Linked DNA regions of Homo sapiens: all the other regions are linked to region 2. The links come from fine-mapping of genetic effects on gene expression. A gene starts in region 2. Each other region holds a variant in brackets. All regions are shown on one strand. Distances are between the middles of the regions. Region 1 overlaps EPHA1-AS1 (EPHA1 antisense RNA 1). Region 2 holds the start of FAM131B-AS2 (FAM131B antisense RNA 2). Region 3 holds the start of EPHA1 (EPH receptor A1).

What was found. PIP is the estimated chance that this variant, and not a neighbour inherited with it, causes the effect.
Region 1: its variant is fine-mapped to the expression of FAM131B-AS2 in whole blood (INTERVAL, PIP 0.96).
Region 3: its variant is fine-mapped to the expression of FAM131B-AS2 in whole blood (INTERVAL, PIP above 0.99).

What each region holds. Positions count from the first base shown.
Region 1 is chr7:143,494,992-143,503,339 of GRCh38, forward strand. The region is part of intron 2 of EPHA1-AS1 (EPHA1 antisense RNA 1); the gene reads left to right. LOC105375547 (a long non-coding RNA gene) reads left to right here. Exons shown (of 2, transcript XR_928075.3): 1 at 1-405; 2 at 975-1,781. Among named protein-coding and RNA genes, the nearest start is that of TAS2R41, 21 kb to the left of the region's middle. The variant T/C (reference allele first, on the strand shown) is at 4,089.
Region 2 is chr7:143,376,487-143,384,658 of GRCh38, forward strand. FAM131B-AS2 (FAM131B antisense RNA 2) reads right to left here and starts at 4,539. Exons shown (of 2, transcript NR_161353.1): 1 at 3,780-4,539; 2 at 2,669-3,623. It overlaps ZYX (zyxin), which reads left to right and starts at 4,859. Exons shown (of 10, transcript NM_003461.5): 1 at 4,859-4,923; 2 at 5,071-5,293; 3 at 5,762-5,961; 4 at 6,107-6,199; 5 at 6,315-6,836. The coding sequence starts at 5,086. It overlaps MIR6892 (microRNA 6892), which reads left to right and starts at 6,200; the gene lies at 6,200-6,314. It also overlaps a transcript of FAM131B not described here. RefSeq lists enhancers at 3,419-3,498, 3,655-4,555, 3,679-3,768 and silencers at 4,269-5,298, 5,329-5,378.
Region 3 is chr7:143,404,671-143,412,670 of GRCh38, forward strand. It overlaps EPHA1 (EPH receptor A1), which reads right to left and starts at 4,186. Exons shown (of 18, transcript NM_005232.5): 1 at 4,054-4,186; 2 at 2,941-3,008. The coding sequence starts at 4,135. It overlaps EPHA1-AS1 (EPHA1 antisense RNA 1), which reads left to right and starts at 3,143. Exons shown (of 5, transcript NR_033897.1): 1 at 3,143-3,216. RefSeq lists enhancers at 159-673, 4,258-4,870. The variant C/A (reference allele first, on the strand shown) is at 4,067.

The DNA of each region.
Region 1 (8,348 bases), 120 kb after region 2:
AGTAGAAAAAGAACAGGCAAGATGACCATAAAATGTCAGTGGGTTAATCTCTGGGTGATAGGATTATAGATATTTTTGTTTTCTTATTTTTAGCTTATCAATATTGATATGGCTTGAATTTGTGTCCCTGCCCAAATCTCATGTCAAACTGTAATCCCCAGTGTTGGAGGAGGGGCCTGGTGGGAGGTGATTGGATCATGGGAGCAGATTTCCCTCTTGTTGTTTTCCAATAGTGAGTTAAGTTCTCACAAGATCTGGTTATTTGAAAGTGTGTGGCACCTCCCCGCTGTCTCTCTTCCTCCTGCTCTGGCCGTGTAAGATGTGCCTGCTTCCACTTCGCCTTCCACCATGATTATAAGTTTCCTGAGGCCTCCTCTCCATGCTTCCTGAACAGTCTGTGGAACTGTGAGTCAATTAAACCTCTTTTCTTAATAAATTACCCAGTCTCAGGTAGTTCTTTATAACAATGAGAGAACAAACTGTTACAAATATTTTTAAATGTTTATAATAAACACATATTTTTTCTCTCATAGGAATCCAAATGAAATTTAAAAAATTCACATATCTGATATAGACGTATCGCATTGAGATAGTGATATTAGGAAATGAATTTGCTGTCTTAATGCCTGGCACTACTGAATAGCCTTTGGGCAACATAAGTGAGCATTCAAGGAAAGATACAATTAAAACTGTATCTCAGCAAAGTAGATATAACTATAGGTTTTCGACTATTTATACCATAAAAAATAAATCTGGAAATATTCTATGGTGGCAAACACCCTGGACTAGAGGCAGGACAATGGGTTTTACTCCGGCTTTGGTACAAATTGCTCTATGACTTTTGACAAGTCACCTAATCTCCCTGGGTCTTAGTTTCTTTGTTTGTGAAACCAAATGGTGGAATTGGACCTCAAGGTCCTGCAGAAGTCTGTGTTTTTCAGTGTGTGCATTACAACATTTTCCTTTCATTCTAGGTACTAGATTCTGAGGTCTGAGACTAAAGTCATTCCATCATGAGTTCCAAACTGGACTTGAGAGGGGAAGAATCATTTCCTTTGAGATTGACCAATACCAGGAGTTTCACTAAAGAAGGCAATGAAAGACCCACAGCCTTGGACATAATTGATTTCCTGTGATATCTGTGTGGGCCCAGGCATGCTGCTCACCTGGGTCTTTCCCCTCTTTCACTCCTTTGGAACTGCCCCACCACTAACCACTTTCCTACTCTCTCCTTCCCCACCCCAGTATCTCCTTGCCTCAAGAGTTTCCTGTTACTAGCAATAATTTAGTTCACTCCCAGGGAACTACTATTTCTGGTTCTCAGTTACTAACCTTTCCATTCAGTTCTTTCCATTCCATTTTTACCAGAATTAACGTTTCCTCATCTTTCCCAGTGAATGTAAAAGGTACCTTCTGGGAAGCATTTTACCGGAACTGATGACTGCTATGCTTGACAGCAGCTTCAACAGCCTCGGATACAACTCATCATGAATTAGCTCTGGCATGACTGAGTTAGAATACTGTTCTGTTTCCTATCTCTACATGTAGGAAAAATTTAAAGTGGCATTTCTATGCTTTGGTCTTTTCTCATAAATGACTTAGGGGAAAACACTTAATGAGGATGAGTAACTAAAATTCAATGAATACTAAAAGCTTTATAAGAATCATCTAATTGAAACTTTACATAATTTCCTTATTATGTATTAACATTGAACGGGCATTATGCATTCCATTTCTAGAAAAGAAGTCTTTCCTTAATAAATTACAAGTGCAAACATGAAGTCCAGGACAATTTTTACTTCAAGATCAACTTGTCTATATGCTAGGATAATGAATTTGAATACTCTTTACTGATGTTCCCTGAAGACGTAGCTATTTTGTTTTCTATAATGATATTATTTTCTTGAGTCTCCATTCTGTTGGGTACTGTAGAAAGAAGACAAAAAGCAAACAATATAATATACCAATTAAAGGTATCTTAGTTTTTTTACAGTATAAATGGTCTCTGTTAACTTAAAATGATCTTTCCAGGTAAATATTTAATTAATTTGAAGTTCTACCTTATATCAGAGTGGTATATTTCTTTTTCTTCCTTATCAACAGGGCTTCTGGGCATAAGACAAAACCTGATAGTACTGACTTGTGGGGCTTTGAATGGATATGTAGAATCACTCTTGTTTTGTGCTGGTCCTGGTGCTGGCTTCTGCAGCTGGACAACCACTCGAATCTTTGCTTATTCACGTGGCAGGTTTCTGTTGAGACATAGTTTATGTGGATCCAACCTGTGTCATCCACTGTTGGAGGCTGTGGCCAAGGAACCCATGGACTGTTTGTTGTCTTGGCTTTGTCAAGGCTTGGTGGCCATCTTCTTGTTGAAATGGTCCCACTTCTGGTTTTCCAATGCTGTGATTCCCCCAAACACACACACATCACCTCCCAGACATGACTGATTTCTTCTGGAGCCCTGAGTTGGGAAGTCCATTCTGTAGCTCTCAGTGATATGGCCACATTTTCTCCACCAAGCTGATCCCCTCTGGCATGTTCTTTGGTTGAGCTCCCAGCTGCTTCCTGTATCTGCACCTCCCATTCGAGACAAACAGGAACTTGAGGCATGAATTCCATATTCTAGGGAGCCAGGAGCATGCTCAGATTGGCTTGCCTGCCATCCTCTTTCACTGCTGCTTTTCTATCGTCCCTCAACATCTTTGGAGTTTCTAGGTCACCCTGAACAACAGTCTCTTGGTAGGGCTCTAAATGGGGATCAGGAAAGTATTTCCACCTTTGGCCTCTTCTTATCCTATCTCTTCATCCTCAGGGCCTCAGTCCCTTGGAGGGCTGTTTAGAACACATATATTTGAATGTCTGCTTCTTCTACCTTTCTCTTCCTTTATTTATTCCCAAGTCTGTGTCAGAAAGAGAAGGTTTTGCCCTCTCATGAAATGGAAGATTTCCCTTATGTCATATCCTGAGTTCCCTAGTTTATCAAAATCTCAGTGTTCAAATCCAAAGGTTGTGGGTTTTGATGTAGGTGCCTCAGGGCTTCAGAAATTTGGAATTAATAAAGAAAATATAGATTGATCTGTTTTTCTCTAAGTGTTATCCTTGTGCCTGCAATTCTCCATATGGTGTCCATCTTGGACAGAGAATTGGGCATCTCTTCTCTTCATTATTCAGCTCGTCCTGCTGAAACGCAGCCAGGACAGGGCACACCGCAGCACCAAGCAGCTACAAGGTAATCAGATTCTGAGCACTAAACCCAAGGCACATGGAATATTTTCCTTTTCTTTTTCTTATTTTATTTTATTTTATTTTATTTTATTTTATTTTATTTTTTTGAGATAGAGTCTTACTCTGTCAACCAGGCTGGAATGCAGTGATACAATATTGGCTCACTGCAGCCTCCACCTCCTGGGTTCAAGTGATTTTCCTGCCTCAGCCTCCAAGTAGTTGGGACTACAGGCACCCGCCACCATGCCTGGATAATTTGTGTATATTTGGTAGAGATGGGGTTTCATCATGTTGGCCATGCTGGTCTTGAACTCCTGACCTCAGGTGATCGGCCCACCTTGGCCTCCCAAAGTGCTAGGATTACAGGCTTGAGCCACCGCACCTGGCCGATGTGGAATATTTTTCTAAAGCAGCCTATTTGATTCTTTTTGAAAGGCCCTTCTCAGTTTCCCCAGCCTGATACGGGCTCGGCTGTAAAGATGGGACAGAATCTGTGTCATGTCTCAGGAGTGAGGAAAAGAAAATGTTATTCTGTCACATTCAGAACAGTTCTACAAGGTGGACACAGACTGGGCCAGAGGTAGACAACTGGTAAAGAGCCAGCCAAGATGAAAATTGGGATATACCCGATGTCAAATTTCAAATATTGGGCATTTTTCACTAGACCATGCTGCCTCTCACATTCCTTTCTAAAAGAAACTGGTTGCAAACGGCCAGGTGCAGTGGCTCACGCCTGTAATCCCAGCACTTTGGGAGGCCAAGGTAGGCAGATCACGAGGTCAGGAGATGGAGACCATCCTGGCTAACATGGTGAAACCCCGTCTCTATTAAAAATACAAAAAATTAGCTGGGTATGGAGG[T/C]ACGAACCTGCTGTAGTCCCAGCTACTTGGGAGGCTGAGGCAGGAGAATCACTTGAAGCCGGGAGGTGGAGGTTGCAGCGACCTGAGATCATGCCACTGCACTCCAGCCTGGGAGACAGAGTGAGACTCCATCTCAAAAAAAAAAAAAAAAAAAGTGGTTGCAATGGAAGAAGGCAAAGGTCTCTTTATGCTCTGGCATTGTGGAATTCCACACAGAGGTTTGCAAAAGCAGAAGCAGTGTCTTTCTGCTGTCAAGATCTTTTCCATGACTGAATTAAGCAAAATGACGTGTCTTAATACTCAAAAGGAGCAGAGAAAAGAGTTCTGGCTGGGTGTTTCCTGCTCTTTAGATAGAGTTTGCTTCCTGGCCTTGAGTTAAGGAAGCTGACTCGTTTTTATTTCTAGAGCCTTCTGGCTCCCCTCCAGGCCTAAGCATTTGCCTCAATTTTTCCCTAACAGTTTGGACCTGGTTATAGGCTGAATAATGGCCCTGCACATGTGTCCACCTTCTGTCCTAATCTCCCAAGTCTATGACTGTTATCTTCTATGGCAAAAGGGATTTTTGCAGGGGTGATTAAGTATTTTGAGATGAGGAGATTATCCTGGGTTAGCCAGGTTTGCCCAATATAATCACAAGGGTCTTTAGAGAGAGAGGCAGGAACACCAGCATCAGATCTTTCTGCCTCCGTCTTCTCTTTAGGGCCAAGCCCATATCAAGCTGGGGAAACCGTGAAGGGCCTTTTACAAAGAATCGAACAGGCTGCTTTAGAAAACTACTCCACATGCCTTCTGTTTAATGCTCACAATCTGATTATGTTGTAGCTGCTTGGTGCTGCGGTGTGCCCTATCCTGGCTGCATTTCTTCATTCCCTCCCCTGCCCACATACATCCACAGCCCCAGTCGGCTGTATCCATGAAGAGCTGAATGGAACAGGATGACTGGCAGCCCACGCCAAAGGCCAAGAGATGTGAAGGTAGAAGCAAGAAGTTAGAATGACCTGAGGAAGAGGTCACAAGCCCAGGAATGCCAGCAGCCACTAAAAGCTGAAAAAAGGCAAGGAAATGAGTTTTCCTCTGAAGCTGCCAGAAGGAACAAGCCCAGCCAATGCCTTGACCCTAGCCCAGTAAAATTGATTTTGAACTTCCGACTTCCAGAACTGTGAGAGAATACATTTACGTTGTTTTAAGCCACAAATATGTGGCAATTTGTTACAGCAGCAATGGGAAACTAACACAGATTCTAATCTCTTTTCTTACTCCCATCCCAGGTTGCCCTGGGGTTAATTCATGATTAAAGATCCTCCAGCTTTGTTCTCTATACTTTCTCTTGTCTTCTTGAGTCTGATCTCCTTCTTGCTCTCCAAGTGCTTCCCCCACTGCACATCAACAAGAACATTTCTGCTTCTTACCTGTCTCTGTCCCCTGCTCTAACCCATGAGGAGTCAGAAGCAGTCTAGTGGGGGCCAGGCAGGGGAGGGAGGTGAGGAAGCTAGGAAGGTTAGAGAAGAGAGAAGAAGCCAACATTCCCCACTTTAAGCTTTTGGGGTTGGGAGTCAGAAGAAGCTTTATCTTAAAACAAGGTTTAGAGGTTTGATTTTACCTTGGGCTGGATATTTTTAAGACTGCAGTGAGAATGTTTTGGGGACTTAAGGCGAATGAAAACGTTTTGATTTTTTGGGAGGAACTAGAACATTCATGCTACTTGTTATGGATTTAGTCCAAGGCACAGAGAAGGACTAGCCCCATAGTGCAGGTTTGAGTGTATGGAGATGAGAAAGAACACAGCACTTTTCTGATTACAGTTTGTGAATTCAGCTTGTTCAGTAAACCAGTTCCCCTTAGTTTCTACAATAGATTTGAGATCTTGTGGTCTGGGACCTGGGAATTCCATCGTGGCTGTGATATTTTCGCAAGATTTTCAAATCTTTTTCAGTATCACATGCACTCTGTGTAGCGGAGGTTGTTTCATCTACTTAGCCCACCAAGACCCCTCTGGAGGCTGCATAGCCTGGTGGCTAAAGGTGTAGGTTCTAGACCCTGAATGTGCAAGTCTGAATCTTTGTTCCTACCTTGTGCCTTTGCAGCAATGGGCAAGTTAAAGTCTCTACTGCCTCAGTTTCTTCTGATGTAAAATGGGGAGGATGGTAATACCTGACTCACGGGCTTTTGTGAAGATCAAATGAGACGATCCATGCAGAGCACTTAGCACAGTGTCCAGTCCATGATAAGCCCTCAGTGAATAGTAGATATTTTTATGTTGAAATGCTTTGAAGAGTTTAGAAGAAAGGTGCCAGTCAAGCCAATGCTAGAAACAGAGATTAATTTTTATTTCCTCACACATTTACTTCTATCCTGCTGTGCCTTGTAAACTGAACATTTTCATATTTTTCTCCTTCGCAAAATACAAACTGTTCCAACAGTTCTCTGCCTCAAACCTGAAGTGTTTTATGCCATCCTTGGTAGGTTGTGAGAGATATTTTGGAAGCACCTTTTTAGAAGCTCTGTTAATTGAAACTATTCCTCAAGCTTTGCAATAAATGCAGAAAGTTTCAGTGCTCCCTCACATCCTGGAAGCTGACTGTAGCCTGTAGAGGGCTACTGGGTTAAGCCCTCTACAAAGGTGACGATAGAGTCCAGTTCAGGAAGCCATCTTCTGGCCAGGTAGGGTGGACATGGGCACACTGGAGCCAGAGGGAGGTCAAAAGAGGGTAGTGAGTGTAGGGGCCAGAAATGATTATCCAAGAGTAAATTGAGGTCCAGAAGCTGTTCAGAGGCACAGGAGCCCTTTTTCATCTTGTCTTTGTTCCTGTTGATAGTGAATATACAGCAGCTGTCTTGAAGATGGAGAAGGAAAGTGAGGGGTGCTGACTGAGAAACTGCCTTACAGACCTCCTTCCTCTCTCCATCTACCTCTAAGTCAAATGAAAAGGAATCCAGTGAAATTCTCCCAGCTCCCTTAATAAAGATGACTCTCCAGCTCTCATCTTGCTAGGAGAATGTTCCACTTCTTTTTCCACAAATAAAAATAATTTATGTTTGTACAGTGCTTAATTTCAAGAAATTTCATAGATATTATTTCATTTGAGGAAGGAGAGAATTGGGGCTGGGTTAGGCCACACAAGCCTGGCTCAATGTCAAGTATTTCCTAAATGGAGACAGAGGTCTGACTCTAAGCTTTATATATGACACTGGTTAGATTTTAGAGTTTTTTAGTTTTTTGAGTTGTGGTGGGAGAAGCACTATAATCATTATTAATATAGCCACCATGAAACATAGATTTAAAATTCTGCTCTGCTAGTTTGAGGTAGCATTAAGATCAGTAGAATGATTTTGAAGGTTTCTGCTTATCAAAGAAATGTTTAAAGAAGAAGAAGTGTGGGTGTGGTGGCTCACACCTGTAATCCCAGCACTTTGGGAGGCTGAGGCGGGTGTATCACCTGAGGTCAGGAGTTTGAGACCAGCCTGGCCAACGTGGTGAAATCCCCTCTCTACTAAAAGTACAAACATTAGCCAGGTGTGGTGGCACACACCTGTAGTCCTAGCTGATTGGGAGCCTGAGGCAGGAGGATCACTTGAACCCAAGAGGCAGAGTTTGCAGTGAGCTGAGATCACACCACTGTACCCGAGCCTGGTTGACAGAGTGAGACTCCATCTAAAAAAAAAAAGAAAAGAAAATATCTATTTCAAACATCTTTAACAAACAATTTTAAGGTATCTAGGCTGTCTAAACATTTATTCTAAAGTTCTCTCTACGAAAAACAATCTAGACTTTATAAAAGATTAGTAAATCTAACCTATTATAAAAATAGTTAAGTTTATAATACCAAGTTAAATTTTTTAGGATCTATATGTGCTTTTTATGATTGGGACACTTGCATTAAGAATAGTACTGCTTATACAGATTTTATTAAAGAATTAGACTTATTTCACTACTTTATTTCAAAGATTGATAATACTTTTATTTTGGTGTATTTTTGGCCATATAGAGGATTAATTTAATGGTAAGTTTTAGTCAGAAAACCAACCTTCTATCATATTGTCCTTATAGGAAAATACAATGAACGATATCATGTTGTACTCTTTGATAACATAGTTTTCTAGGAATATTCTGGGTAAAATGGTTTAAATAATTTGGGAGTAAATTTCTTTTGCTGAAGCTTTTAATTTCAACTACTCATGCAGCAAAATATTTTGCCAAAGTCCAATGACTTTCAAGTTTAATAGTGGCATTAGGTAAAGCTGAAAATAGGCCTATATTTT
Region 2 (8,172 bases):
TGAAGAAAGAAGGAAACGTGGGCATTTGTGGTTGTCAGTCCCACCCCTCTCTTGGGGGAGTGGCCCTTGGACAGGGCAGGAGGCTGCTCAACCTTGGCCTTGACTGCAAAGGTCTCTGGGTCTTGCTGTGTGCTTCACCCAGACCTCATCCTGATGCGCGCCCAACCCATCCATGGTTCATCATCCACCGTGTCTGCAGTTCCCTCAGGGAGAGATTCTTTTGTACTGGCATGCAGGCCAGTGGGATGAGAGGGGCAGTAAATCTGGGAGCAAGTGGGAAGCTGCAGGCCGAGTGCACACAGTACTCAGCGCAAGGGAGGTGCTCCAATATCAGGAAAAAGATACAACGGCTCTTTCATTTCTCTCCTTTCTTTTTTCAGATTATAAAGTAATACATGTTCACAGGGACAAAATACAAAAGTATAAAAGCCTTCTGTCCTCCTCAATCTACTCCCTAACATTAACTACTGTTAACAATTCTTTTTTATTTGTTTATTTTTTTGACACACAGTCGCATTCCTCGCCCAGGATGGAGTGCAGTGGCACGATCTCGATCTCGGCTCACTGCAACCTCCACCTCCTGGTTCAAGCAATTCTCGTAGCTGGGATTACAGGCGCACACCACCAACCCGGCTTATGTTTGTATTTTTTCTAGAGACGGGGTTTCTCCATGTTGGCCATGCCTAGTCTTGAACTCCCGGCCTCAAGTGATCCTCCCACCTCAGCCTCCCAAGGTGGTGAGATTACAGGCATGAGCCACTGCGCCTGGCTGTGCTGTTAACAATTCTTGACATCTTCTGGAAATGTGCTATTTTACAAAAGCACGTATACATATAGCTTGCATATACAAAATGTGTGTATGTGTTCACATGCAGATAGATATATAAACAGACAGAATTTGATGGTGTCATGAGACAGAAAGAGAAAATGGTAGCCCACAGGTATAAAGTAGGGGTGTTGGGGTGAAGGCAGACTTGAAAGGGGCTGTTGATGGACCAGGTAGGAGGGCCTGAGGAGAAGTGATGGAATACAAGGATGGAAGCAAGGATGGGGCAGGAGAGTCTTAATATTTGTGTTGCAAAAAAATTTTGCAGTTTAGGAGGTGAGAAATCCAACATCCAGTTAGCCTCAGTTTCCTTAACTAAAAAATGGGATAATGATGTATATTCCTCACAGGTTTATAGTGATGATTAGAAGGGGCGAATATATATATAAACAAACATACATATATGTTTGTTTGTTTTTTGGACAGAGTCTCGATCTGTCACCCAGGCTGGTATGCAGTGGTGCGATTTTGGCTCACTGCAACCTCCGCCTCCCAGGTTCAAGTGATTCTCCCATCTTAGCCTCCTGAGTAGCTGAGACTACAGGCACGTGCCACCACGCCCAGCTAATTTTTGTATTTTTAGTAGAGATGGGGTTTCACTATATCTTGGCCAGGTTGGTCTTGAACTCCTGACCTCAGGTGATCCACCCACCTTGGCCTCCCAAAGTGCTGGGATTACAGGCGTGAGCCACTGTGCCTGGCCAGGGCTAATATATTTAAAGTGCTTAGCATTGCACCTCAAACAATATTCTAAGCATTCTCTCAGCGTGTGCTGCTATTATAGTTGTTGATGTTATTAGGGTGCTGCTATTGTTGCTGTTTTCAGAATGCTTCACGTGGTCCCTGGCCCGTGAGTGAACCTCTATCCATCTGCAGTTGGCATATGGAAAGAACCTCCTGGTCACATTTCTCTTTCCATTTTAGAAATCATTCTTTTGTTGTGACACTGTCTTTTCATTTTCCTTCCCTGACTGCTCTTAACTTCCTACTTTATGCTGTGCACTCTTGAAGAAAACTTTCTGGTACCTGATGGTTATAAATCCTTGGAGGCGCGTGAAGATGTTTTAGGTAGTAAAGGGCAGTGGCCATTTTCTCACTTTGTCTCCCTGGCCTGGTCTTAAGCTGTTGGGCATTCTTTAGTCAGGAACATCTTCTTATTTGCTGTACTTCACACATACTGCCTAAGGATATCAATTAGAATTGCTTACTTAAGAAAAATGCCCAGCAATCGTTAAGGCCACTCTTGTTCATTTCCTGCATTTTTTTTTTTTTTTTTTTTGAGATGGAGTCTCACTCTGTTGCCCAGGCTGGAGTGCAGTGGCGTGATCTTGGCTCACTGCAACTTCCGCCTCCTGGGTTCAAGCGATTCTTCTCCTGCTTCAGCCTCCCCAGTAGCTGGGACTACACGCTCCCGCCACCTCACCAGGCTAATTTTTGTATTTTTAGTAGAGACTGGGTTTCACCACGTTGGTCAGGCTTGTCTCAAACTTCCGACCTCAAGTGATCTGCCTGCCTTGGCCTCCAAAGTGCTGGGATTACAGGCGTGAGCCACTGCGCCCAGCCCATTGTCTTCATTTTAAGAGCACTGACTCTGCTGCTCCTCTTGAGACATCTTGGGCAGTGATTCTGTTCTTCTGGGATACTCTGGGTGTTTCTACTTGTATTTAGAATGGCTGGCTTAAAAGTCTTTGTTTGAATATTCCGCATTCTGAATGCTCTTAGTTGTCAGTAAAACTATGCCTGCCTACGCACTCTTCTATTTCTGATTTAAAAATAGGTTCAGCTGCCTAACAATTACACATACTCTATTTTGCACGCGCACATTACTTAAGGAGACATTTAGAGGGTAGATAGCTTTTATTCCTATGAGTTATCTTGAAATCATCTTCTTAACTATCTTTTTTTCCCCAAAGGGGCCATATTTTGAAGGATTTGTGATGAGACTTTTGGTCTGTGAAGCCCAAGACACAATCTCCAACATGCACAGGAAATCCAGTATCAAATTTCTAACATGTCTTCAGAGACAGGCCCAGGGCTGGCTTGAGCGTGTCAGAGAGGTGTGCACTGCGTACTACCCATCATACATGGCCACACATGCCTGTGGCTGTGAGAAATACTGGTGGTGACAAAGACAATGAGATGCCAGAGAAAAAGATCAGTGGGGTTTGCAAAAGTGATTAAGATGTCGTCCTAGGTATAATTAAAGACTTAATAAGGTTGAAGGAAAGAGAGGACATTGCACATACCGAGGCCCCTGAGAGATCTGCCTGGCAACCCAGAAAGGGACATATGGGGGAAAACGCCTTAGTGTAACCAGGTCAGAATTTTCATTCTGGGCAGAACTGGAATTTGAATAATAATACTGAGTCATATAGCGCATACAGCTATGACATTTCATTTATTTCTCTATATAATGCAATAAAGTAGATGGATTAACCGTGACGTTTACAGATGGAGCAGGGGAGAATGAAGAGGCGTCAGTTTGGGCATCAGGCTGGATCTTCACACTCTGACCTCACTCTGCTCTATCCTGCCCAGTGTTGCTTCACCTGATATCAGGGGTGCAAGGCAACCAGATCTGACACCAGTTTCAGTTTAGATCCTGCCTTTACCTGGGTGTGACCCGGGTCCATCTCTTCAGCTCGGCCTCTGCTTTCTCTTCATAAACTTTTGGGGTTAGTCCTCGGATGATCTCTAAAACATGGCCCAGGTGCTCCTTGCCAGTAGAGTGTAGCCGGATTTGGAGGGACTGGACACTCAGTGTGAACAAGACGAAGGCCTCAGGAGGCAGTAAAAGCTGACAAGAGGAGAGAAAATGAAGCGCCTACGGGTGCATACTGGACTAGCGGGCGAAAGGCCATGACTCCTTAGTTTGGAGAAAGAACTGGGGCCGAGATTGGGGAAGTTTCCCAGTGCAATTAAAAAAAAAAAAAAAAAGAACTAGAAGAATTACCCAGGTCTGGCTTCTTTCGTGTAGCCTGGGGCTGAGTCGCAGGCTGAGAAATCCAGTCTGGCCAGTAGGGGGCTCCACCAAGCGCAGTCTCAGAATGCCCAAGAGCTCCACCGTCGCCCGGGGTCTCCACCAAGCGCAGTCTCAGAATGCCCAAGAGCCCCACCGTCGCCCGGGGTCTCCAAGAGGAGTGGGTCGTGGTGGGCGTTGAAGGGCCGTAAAAGACGAGCAGCCCGCGTCCGCGTCCGTCCTCCCGGGTCTCCAGTCCGCAGGCGGCCGCCGCCTCGGCCCCGCCCTCCCACCTCCATTCCCGGCCCCGCGGACCCGAACGGTCCCTCTCGCAACCGATCTGCTGGCTGGGGCGCTGGGGATGCGAATTCCTAGAAGCCTTAAGAGGCTGCCCAGCGTTGGAAGTTCGTATCCCCAAGAATGCTGGAGGTTCCGGCTCACACACCCCCTCCGGGCACAGAGTCAGCTGGGGGGTGCTGGGAGGGAGAACGCCCCGCTCCTCACCCCCCATCCCCGTGCACCCTGGAGCCCAGCTCCATACGTTCGGCCACCCCAGGCGGACTCGGGGTGGCCGGGTAGCGGGTGGTGGCAGGAGGGGACCGGGTAACGGCAGGCCCGAGAGGAGGTCGCTGGGCCGGGCCGGAGGCGCACAGGGGCTGCGTGGCTACCTCGGCGGCACCCGCCCCACCTCCGCCGGCTAAGCCCGGAGGGGGACGGTGAGTCAGATCTCGGGCACCCGCGGGTCGGGCGGGGAGGGGGAGGCAGGTCAGGAAATGACATCAGAGGCCTGTGCTCAGGGAGTGGGGGTCTGAGCCGGGCTGGGGCGGCGGGGGCGGCAGTGAGTGGGGTGGGGGCGAGCGGACCTCGGCGGAGCCTCCGGCCTGAGGCAGGATCAGGGCCCCTTCCTGGGGGAGTTTCCTGCCTGGTCCGCCCTTCCCCGCTCTCCCCGCCCCCTCTCCGGGCCGCTCCTTGTATGGTCTGGGCGCCGCTCTCTCCCCGCCCCCTCTCTTCTCCCTCCCTCCTCCTTCCGTGTGTCCCTCCCCGCCCGGCTGGAGGCTGCTCCGGACCGGGACGCAGAGTCTGCGGACCCGGCGCCGAGGCGGCCACCCGAGACGCGGCGCGCACGCTCCGGCCTGCGGTGAGGCGCGGGGAGCGGCAGGGCGGCCCCACGGGGAGGGGGCGCGGGGCGCCGGGAGGGGGCGAGTGGGGGTCACCAAGGGGAGCTGGGACCGCCTGGGGCTCCTGAGCCCGGCTCCGCGCTGCGTAACCCGGCGACCCACCCCAGCAGCCCGGCCCGGCCATGGCGGCCCCCCGCCCGTCTCCCGCGATCTCCGTTTCGGTCTCGGCTCCGGCTTTTTACGCCCCGCAGAAGAAGTTCGGCCCTGTGGTGGCCCCAAAGCCCAAAGTGAATCCCTTCCGGCCCGGGGACAGCGAGCCTCCCCCGGCACCCGGGGCCCAGCGCGCACAGATGGGCCGGGTGGGCGAGATTCCCCCGCCGCCCCCGGAAGGTATGCGGCGGGGCTTGGGGAATGTACCCCGGCAGGAGCCGGGGTGGGGGGCAGTCGTTTCGGGAATTTGGGGATGTCTGGAAAGGTTGTTGCCGAGGGGGCTGGGCGCAGCCACCCTGTCCCGAGCAGATGTTCTTACCTCATCGTGGAGCTCGTGGCTGGGAGCCAGGGCTCCTGGGACCGTTCCAAGTCCCCCGCCTGGGAGTGGGAGTCGGGAATGTGGGGCACGAATCTTCCCCTCCGGGTCCGTTTTCCGAAGTGTAACGGGAGCTGCACCACTCCTCGGCAGTGCGCCCGGCCTTTCCTGACCTGGTACTCCCAGGGCGCCCTGCGCCCCTCCTTTGCTTCCCCACACGCTCTGGGACCCCTGAGAGAGTTCTTGGGTTAGGGGTTAGAGCGGTTAACTGAGGGGAGCTTGGGTGAGGGGTAGAGGGACCCCGGCCGACGTCTTTCTCCTTCCTACCCCAGACTTTCCCCTGCCTCCACCTCCCCTTGCTGGGGATGGCGACGATGCAGAGGGTGCTCTGGGAGGTGCCTTCCCGCCGCCCCCTCCCCCGATCGAGGAATCATTTCCCCCTGCGCCTCTGGAGGAGGAGATCTTCCCTTCCCCGCCGCCTCCTCCGGAGGAGGAGGGAGGGCCTGAGGCCCCCATACCGCCCCCACCACAGGTACGGAGGCCTGGGAGGGGCGGCTGCACTGGACACCCCCAAGGAGAGGAGAAGAGGGCCCTTTCTTCTTACCTCCCCTGCACCTCTGCCTTGGGGGTGGGGGGATAGAGGCATGGAATAGGTGCTCTGACCTCTGACCCTCTAGCCCAGGGAGAAGGTGAGCAGTATTGATTTGGAGATCGACTCTCTGTCCTCACTGCTGGATGACATGACCAAGAATGATCCTTTCAAAGCCCGGGTAAGGGACCGGAGAGTAGGAAAAGCAGGGCTCAGGGCCAGAGAGACTGGGCATAGAACTAAGGAGGATGGTGTCCTCCTGACTGCATCTCTCTTCCCTCTCCCACCCCTTGCAGGTGTCATCTGGATATGTGCCCCCACCAGTGGCCACTCCATTCAGTTCCAAGTCCAGTACCAAGCCTGCAGCCGGGGGCACAGCACCCCTGCCTCCTTGGAAGTCCCCTTCCAGCTCCCAGCCTCTGCCCCAGGTTCCGGCTCCGGCTCAGAGCCAGACACAGTTCCATGTTCAGCCCCAGCCCCAGCCCAAGCCTCAGGTCCAACTCCATGTCCAGTCCCAGACCCAGCCTGTGTCTTTGGCTAACACCCAGCCCCGAGGGCCCCCAGCCTCATCTCCGGCTCCAGCCCCTAAGTTTTCTCCAGTGACTCCTAAGTTTACTCCTGTGGCTTCCAAGTTCAGTCCTGGAGCCCCAGGTGGATCTGGGTCACAACCAAATCAAAAATTGGGGCACCCCGAAGCTCTTTCTGCTGGCACAGGCTCCCCTCAACCTCCCAGCTTCACCTATGCCCAGCAGAGGGAGAAGCCCCGAGTGCAGGAGAAGCAGCACCCCGTGCCCCCACCGGCTCAGAACCAAAACCAGGTGAGGGATGGTGATAGGACAAGGCTTGGTACCAGGGCACTGGGGCGGGGCTGGGTCAGGAGCCAGAGCATAAGCATAAGGTGATTGGAGAGTCAGGGTGGACACGGGGGTTGCGGGGTGGCGGGATAGGAATTTTCATCCTCTGGGGTTAGCCTGGTGGAACAATGGTAGGAAAATGCTCCTCTGGAGGAGAGGCCTGGCTGGGTGTGGGGCTGGGTGGGGCCTGGCTGGGACGGCGCAGAGAGCATGGGCTCTGAATTAGGAGGATCTGGTGGACCTTTCCTTGTGCCTTTACCCCAGAAAGTTAAAGGGAGGGATGAGATCACCAGTTCCACCTTGGTTTTTCCCATTCTTGGGTCTTGAGTTAATCTCCCTGCTCCTCTGAGCACTCTTTCTGCCTGAGGGCTTGGAGGTAAGAGACAGCCCCAGTAAACACTGGTTGAGCCAGCATCCACCACGTGCCAGGCACTGTGCTCTGTGCCCAGGAGGGTAGGACATGGGAGGGAAGAGATCTCTGCAAGAAGCTCAGCCTTCAGGTGTCAGATGGACCTGGAATGGAATTCTTGGCTCAGCTTCTCCCAAGTCCTTAGACTGGGCAAGTTAGGTGAACCCTGAGCCTCAGTTTCTCAATCTTTAACATTCTCTACTCCATACAGTGGTTGTGAAGATTGGGTGAGCTAATACCTAGAGAGTGTTGGGTTCTGTATCTAGTACAGGAATGCTCAAAATAGAAAAGCTGTAATTACAAAATGGTTCTTGCCTTCTAGTTCAGGAAATAAGATCGTCCAATTTCTGGTGACGAAGATGACCCTGATGGTCATCTAGTCCAAGCATCCAGAGTCCACTGATAGTGTTGATGTCTACCTACACTCGGACACAGCATAGGAAGAAATGCCAAGGGCCAGTGAGCTTTGCAGAATCCTGTGAGTCACAGGCACTCAGACCAGGGAGTCAACTCGGGGAGTCAAATTAGGAAAGGCTTCGAAGGATGGGCAGGACGTAAGAATCCAGAGAGGAGAGGGATGTTTGGAGAACAGAAAGTGGAAGGTTCCTGTAGGAAAATGATAGAGCTATACTTGGAGAGGCAAGCGGGGCTGGAGGGTGTAGGAGGTGAAGTGGCTCACCCAAGGAGCTCTTGAGCACTGGAGAGGCATTCATGATTTTTGAGTAGGTGTGGGGTGGGTCAGGAGGGCTGGTGAAAGCAGTGTTTTTGGAAGCTTTCTGGAAAGTTTCACCAGCAGAGATGTGTATTCGAGGGAGGTCAGTGATGGGTGTGAATTCACTCTTGGGCAATAGTAATGTTAGCTGCAATGAAAATTAAACCGTGCATGTGAGA
Region 3 (8,000 bases), 28 kb after region 2:
CTGTCCCATTAACCTGAGTGATCTTGTGCAAGACATATGTTTTAGTTATAGCTGATGGTTCTGATATCTGCTTGTCAGACAAGTCTCCCATTTCATTCTTCAAAAACTCTTCTCAACCATTCTTATTTCCTCTGTCAGATGAATTTTCAAAAGCTCTCAAATTCTATAAAGTATTCTATTGATATTTTTGTTGCAACCCCATAATTTAATGCAGAATAGACTGAGGCCCTTAGAAAGTTCACTTTCCTGAGGTTTCTACTCCATTATAATGCAGGGGCCCTCATCCCTACCCTCAGCTCTGGGAAAAGGCAAAAAAAAAAATCATTAATCAAAAATTTGGGGTGAGGTGGGGCAGAAATAGAAGCTGCTATGAGGCACATATTTCTGCATTATGTTAGGGAGTTCAAAGATTGGGCAAGGGGTGTCTAAAAGGCAAGGAAGCTGGAATGAAAAAGGCACCAGGAGGCTTCTCCTAAGGAAGGCTGTGCTGGGGAAGCCCAAGTGGAAGGCACTGGCGGGGGTCAGGTGGGCAGGGTGGTGAGTGGTTAACGTGCAGCTCATTAGCCAGATTGCCGTGGCTGAAGCTGGAGCCAGGAGAAGCAGATGTTCCCAGCTGTGCCTTGCCTCTCCCAGTTCCAGCAGTGACAGATGGGCGAGAGCCAGCTGTCCAGGATCAGCAGTAAGGATCCTTTTGCTTATCACTCAGGCGCTGCTGGCTGCCACATGGGTGCATTCTGGACCTGAATGCCTGCGTGTGCATGTGTGCGTGTGTGTGTGTGTGTGTGTGTGTGTTTTGAAAAGATGGGGAGAAGGAGGGGGACAAGGTAGATAGTGGGAGTGTATGACTGCTGGCTGTCTCCTTGCCCTCCTAGCATGCAGGACTGTTTTGCCTGTGCTGAGAAAGTGGCCTTGCTGCCATTCCAGTCAAATTAGGGAAGAGTTATTTGGGTGGAGGTGTCAAGGGCCCAAGGAAGGCCCATGGGAGCCAGAAGTCTGACCTGCAGCTATCACTGTGGGTGATTAGCTGATTTATGAGATAAGTCAACTATTAGGGCTGGATCTTCCAAACGGCCCCTCCTGGAGGATCCACTATGGTTTAGTCTATTAGCTCTAATTACAGGCTACTCTGTAGGAGAACAGAGAACGGAGCCAGGACTGTAGGACCCAGAGGGAAAGAAAGCAAGTAACCCTGACCCCAGAAACAGGGGCTGGATTGAAGTCTCAAGTACTGGGGTAAGGAAGGAAACCCTGAGAGAAGGGGTTCCAGAGCCAGAGTTGTAGATGCTCCAGTAACTTAGGCAGCCCCCTAAGTGGTTCTGTGACCAGCTGTGCTGCTGGCAGAAAGGGTGCTGTGAATTGTAAAATATATATTTGGTCTTTGTCCACATTTCCTGGCAAACAACCCCTAAAGCCCTCAAAATCCCTGAAGTGACAAATGTCTTTTTATATGCTAGTGAGCTGACTGCCGGGGATGGGAACTAGACTGGGGTGGGGGAGGCCTGGGTGGCAGAAGGCAACCTTGTGATTGGAGTTGGGACTTTCGGCCCCACCCCCAACTTCCAGGGAAGGTAGAGAGGTTGAAGGTTGAGCTGATAACCAGTGGGCAATGATCTAATTAATCACGCCTATGTAATGAAGTCTCCATAAAAGCCCAGAAGGATGGGGTTGGGAGGGCTTCTGGATGGCCATACATGATTAGGTCCCTGCAGGGTGGCTCGCCTCCTTCACATATACCTTGCCCCATGCAGCTATTCCATCTGGTGTTCATGGTACCATTTGTAATAACCGTTATAGTAAGCCAGTAAATCCAAGTCAATGTTTCCCTGAGTTCTGTGAGCCATCCTAGCAAACTAATTGAACCCGAGGAGGAGGGTCAGGTAAACCTGATTACAGCCGATGGAACAGAAGTATAGGTGACAACATGTTACTTGTGATTGTTGTCTAGAGGAGGGCAGTCTTGTGGGGCTGAGCCCTCAACCTGAGGCTATCTCCAGGTAGATAGTGTAAGAACTGAATAAGATTAGAGGACACTCAGCTACTGTCCACTGAAGAATCTGCCAGAGAGAACTGACTGCAGGCGGGAGGAATCCCTACACGCATTTTGGTGACCACAGGTCACCGAAGTGATTTGTGTTGAGAGTGCAGTAGGAAAAAACTGAGTTTGGTTTTTTGTACATCATAAGAGCTGCTCTCTGCATTTGAGTCTGAATATGCTCTCTCAGACCCACCTCACAACCTGTTCACTGAGTCTTAGGAACATCCAAGGAAGGAAGGGAACTGGAACAAGCTCTGACACTTTCAAACAGCTGGAATGCATGGTGTGCACGCAGTCAGCCTGAGGAGGTGTGGAGGATGAGCTAAGGGCTCAGAAACCTTTAGGGGAGCAGCTTTTAACTTCGGAGGAGTCAAAGACCCTTTGAAGAATTTGATGAAAGCTTTGGCTGGTCTCTCCAGAAAAAAAAATGCCCGCTTACATATACAGAATTTAGAGTACACTTTCATGGGGTTTCCCCACCCCCTGAAACCTATCAATGCAACTTCATTGGGATGAATGGATCTCAGATTGAGGATGCTTTTCTGCCTTTTCTATCCCTCCCCAAGCAAAGCACTGGTCTCAGCCTTCAACCATCCCCAGCATGGTGCATTCTCTCCCCGGGTATGTGAGCTCCTCTCCCCCTCACAAGTATCAGCTTGTATTCACAATATTCCCAAGTATTCACTGGAGGAGCCAGGCCATTCAAGCGTTCATCTTGAGGTGAAGTCTGACCCCCCCACCCCTTGTCCCATTGAGGAGGCTCTGACTCAGCCTCCTCTCCCCCTCCCTGAGGAGACACTTCCAGTTTTTCCTGCTCTTTTCTCTGTTCCTCCACCCACCTCTCCACCCCATTTCCCACTGGCCTTCAGGAGTTTTCCAAGATCCTTCCCTCTTCCGACACTTACCCCATCTTTTGGGGGATCCAGCAGCCAGCCCAGCTCTCCCTGTGCCTTGCTTGTGTCCATCAGAGTAACTGAAAGTGGGGAGAAAAGAAGTCTGTCACCTCTGGGGGAGGAGGTGCCCCTGCAGCCCACATTAATCATTCTGGGGCCTCAGCCCCAGGCTGCAACATCCTGTTCCTAAAAGCTGTGACTTCCTGAGGCTTAGGGGAGAAAAAGGGCTCAGGACTGAGGAGTGAAGAGCTCCAGGGATTTCACTCTTCTTTGTGTGTGTGAAGGAAGGCAGGTAGAGTGGGACAAGGGTTGGGGCGCTGGGTCTTTGACCAAAGTCAATGCAAGAAGAGCAGCCCCACGAGACGCTCAGTTACCCAGGCTGCTGCGTCCTGGGACACCCATCAGCTGCAGGATTGGAACGCGTGGAGGGCAGGAGGAGCTCACCTCTGCTAGCCAGGAGTGGGCAGGGTGGACCGGGGACCTCAGAAGGGGTTTCCTGGGTAGGGAGGCTCACCTCCACTGTCCGAAGCCTGCTTTGGCCTGACCTGGCCAGTGATCAGAGCCGTGAAGTGGGGATAAGAGGCACAGCTACCTGCCTGGGAAGTGGGGGGGAGTAAGGCCGGAGAGGGTGTTCCAACTTTCACATGGAATATTCGACTCGGACAACTGGGAACCCCTGTGGCGTCAGTCCTAACCCTTCTCCCGGAGGCAGCTCCCTCTGTCCCTGGCCTAGGTTGGCAGGAGGCGACTTCCCACCTTCAACTTCCAAGGGCTCAGATCTCTGGGGTGGGCACCTGAAGCTGGGACTGTCTGGGAATGCAGGCAGGGGTGCGGGTGCAGGTGCTACTTCCTGGCAAGGGTCCGGAATTCCCTCCCCACTCCCAGGAGCAGATTGCTGGCCTGCGGGAGTGGGGGTGACTGACCCGGGAGAGCAGCCGCTTGGGGTTAAAGACCAAAGATGGGCCTGGCCAGTCGATAGCCTGGCGGTCGGGCACAGCGAGAGAGCTGGCGAGGGTCTCGGGGAACATGGCCCCTAGGAATGCCGGCTTCTGCAGGGGGGTGCTGGCCGGGCCCCGGGAAGGGGCGGGGCGCGGGGGTTGGGGGCGCGGGGGCGGGGGTCGGTACCTTCCTTGGCGCG[C/A]GCCCCCGGGGGCAGCGGGGCGCAGAGCAGCAGCACCAGCCCTAGCCCCAGGGGCCAGCGCCGCTCCATAGCTCCGGGCCGGGACCTGGGACAGTGGCCCGGATGGCAGCGCCAGGTTGCAAGGGACTAGGAGAGCCGGGCGGGCCGGGCGGGGGCGGGGGGCGGGGCCAGCGCCGGGGGCGGAGTCCCGGCCTCACCTGGTTCACCTCCTTAAAGGGACAGTAGGGCAGGAAAGAAACTTGCTAGACTGGTAATCAAATTCAAGAACCGGAGGCGTCTTGACCCGAATGAGACTGCGGGCGCCGCCTAGTAGGTGGGATTAAGAATTGACGAACCTTTTCCCAATTCTAATCCTAAACTCAACCCAATCTTGATCCAGCTTTTAACCTAATTCTACCTCTGACTTGAATTACACTCCTATATTCCTCTTTCTGTCTTTGTGCAGGCCCCAGAGCTGGGTAATAGGGCCGGGGAAGGCAAGGGGTAAGAGTCATATCTTCACCCTCTAGCAGGGGAGGCTTAGATGACCACAATGCAAGGTGGGGTACAACCTGCAGTGAAGCATCTGGAGATTAGAAGAGGAAGCAAGCCCAGTCATCGGGGCACATTAGTTGAGTCTTCAGGGAGAGCTGGTGTGACCTGGGTTTTCAGTGGCAGAGATTGGGAAAGGCACCAGCAAGGGCCTGAAGGCAGGGAGCCTCAAGGTGCGCCCAGGGAGTGGTGAATGGACCAGTTTGACTGCTGGGGCGCAGGATTTGTCTTGGGAATCAGGGCAGAAAGGCAGGTGTGGGCCAGGGCTGGGTAAACAAGAAAAGGAGTTTGAACCTTGACATGCACTTACACAGCAGACATGAATATCTGGTTAAGGTTCCAGCCACAGGTGGCAGGGAAGGATATTTTAACCCATCTTAGTGGTGTCAAACCACGTGCCCTCTCACTTTCTTGCGGACTTCCTTATATTCTTTTTCTTTTTTGAGATGGAGTCTCGCTCTGTGGCCCAGGCTGCAGTGCAGTGGTGCAATCTTGGCTCACTGCAACCTCCGCCTCCCTGGTTCAAACGATCCTCCTGCCTCAGCCTCCCGAGTAACTGGGATCACAAGCGTCAAGCGTGCACCACCACACCCAGCTAATTTTTCTATTTTTAGTAGAGACGGGGTTTCACCATGTTGGCCAGCCTGGTGTCGAACTCCTGACCTTAGGTGATCCCTCCTGATCTCAAGTGATCTCCCTGCCTCTGCCTCCCAAAGTCCTGGAATTACAGGCCTGAGTTACTGCGCTCTGCCGAGACTTTCTTATATTCTATTTAGTAAATGTTTGTTCAGTTTCTGCTATGCATGCAGGAAGCTCTAGAAGCACCTAAGAACAGAAGGACAATGTCTTGCCCTATATAAGCTATTAATTTGGGGATGCTGGGGGTTGAGACATAAATAATTGCACAAATGATTGAAATGGCGGGCAGGAGTGGACCCCAGGCAAGGTACACACAGGGATCACAGTAGCTCAAAGGGGAGTGATGCATTTACTAAAGAGGCTGGGGGTCCACTCCTGGCCCCTCCTTCTTTCGCTCCATCCCATCTGGGTAAATTGTTCATAATTTTTCTATCATTTACATTGTTGCACATTTCGGTACTGTGAATGAAGGGAGGTGGTGGATTATAGGTGCTTTTTCTCATTTTCAAAATGTAATGCTTCTCAGGTTTTTTGTTTTTTTTTTTTGCTTTCTTATGCAGATACGTATATGACAAACACGGCCCATCAGTTCTTGGCTCAGACTATCCTTATTTGCATAAATAAATGTAATTCATGTACATTGGTTAGGAAATTCATGTTGAACATACAGAAACAAAATGGGAAGTAGAACCCTCTGCCCTCCAACACTCTAATTTCTGTTCCCCAAGTTAACCACCATCAACTGTTTCTTGTAAGTCCTCCCAGGATTGCTTCCTCGCTGTGTACACACCATCGTGTATTTTTCCCTCCCTCTCTCCCTCTACTCCCACACTTACATGCTTTTAAAATGTGTATACAGAGGGGCCATCTGACACACATTGCTCTGCACCAGAGGCCTCTTTTCTAATGTTAAAGACTCCAGGAAGGAGGAGGAGGCTCACGCTGGCTGGCGGGGGTCAGAGCTTTGTGATTTCAGCAGGGAGGAATGGGCGAAGGGTACAAAGCCAACAGAAGGGGGGAAATGGAGCAAGCGTTGGACAATTGCTGCTAGGACATAAGCCAGACTGTGGTGAGGTAATGCATGTGCTTGCTGCTGCAGTTTGTTAAAGTTACAAGACCCTTGGGACTCCAGAGGGTGGGGGGTGGGGGGTGGGTGTGTGGAGTGGGGGAGACTGCTCCATGCAGTGAGACATGGAGTCTAGAACCCTGGAAAAAAAAGTCTTGCTTTTTGTTTTAGGATAGGCTCTTTATCCTGGTCTGAAAGTCTCTGCATATGGGGAATGAATGTCCACTTTCTGTCTCCTTTCAGGATTATCTTGATTTGACATTTTCTGGTTAGTTTGTCATGAGAGGAGGCACATCTTCAAGTTTAGTCTCTGTTCTTAACTAGCAGTACAACTTTTGTCAAATTATTTATGTTCTCTGGACCATGGTTTCAGTTTCCCTAGACCTAGATGATTTCTGAGGCTATATTCAGGGATGGTCTCAGAAAATAAAAAGCTAGCAGGATTTTGAGTCAGGAGACTTTGGCCAGTTCCCTTAGCCATAATGTGCCTCAGTTTCCTTAGCTATAAAATGAGATTAATCACGTCCACCCCACAGAGTCAGTGTAATGATCAAAAGAGGAGAAAGTGCTTTATGAACTGTAAGGTACTGAGCAAATGTTAATTGGCTAGGAGAATGGTGGAGGCTAGGAATTGCTGGAGTTCTCCTGCAGGCCTCCCAGCTTGCTCCCAGAGCAGAACAACCTCAATTACTAAGACATCATTATTTTTCCATTCCAAAATCAACTTTACTGAGGGACAACTTGCATAAAATAAGTTGCAGCCATTCCAAGTGTACGGTTCAATGGGCTCTCACAAATGTATATGCACCACCACCTCAGTCAAGATGCAGAGCAGTTTCAGCATCTAAAAACATTCACTGGTGCTCCTGTGAATCAATCCCACCTCCAGCCTTAGGGTTTCTGTCCATTTGGGTGAGTTTTATCCTTTCCAGAATTTTATGCCGTCTCTGGACTCTGGGTCTTTCTCTTTAGTATGATGCTCCCAAGATCCATCCTTCTAAGACTCATCCTTCTAAGATCCATCTTTCTTGTTGCCTCCATCAACAGTTTCTCTTTTTCGATGCTGGGCAGTATTCCCTATAGAGATGCCCTAAGACATCATTTAAAATTACAAAATCAAACCCCAAAACTCCTCCTTTTTTTTGGTCCCCTAGGAACCACAGGCCTCGTAGCAGACAGGGCCTCCCAGAGGGACACCTCTTTCCCCTTCTGGCGTCTGGCCCTGTTCTCATTCTGCAGTCAGAAAGGAAAGCCTGCAGAGTCCCTGCAGCCCAGGCTGTGGCTTGTTCTTACAAACTTGACGTTAACACTACCCTGTTCATATTATTCCCCTTCTACTCCCTACCCAGCTCCTTTCTGACTGAGGATAAGGTGAAATTACACCCAGCCTAGGTCATGGTCTTGTATATCCATAGGCTCTGGTCAAAATGCAACCAACATCACCAGCAGGGTAACCCAGGATGTTGCTAGCAACTACTATGAGAGAATTAGTACAAACTAATTTTTTGGACTAGTATTGTCAGAGGCATGTGAACCAGAGCAACTCCATCTTGAGTAGGGGCTGGGTGAAATGAGGCTGAGATCTACTGGGCTGCATTCCCAGACAGTTAAGGCATTCTAAGTCACAGGATGAGATAAGAGGTAGGCACAAGTTACAGGTCATAAAAACCTTGCTGATAAAACAGTTTGCGGTAAAGA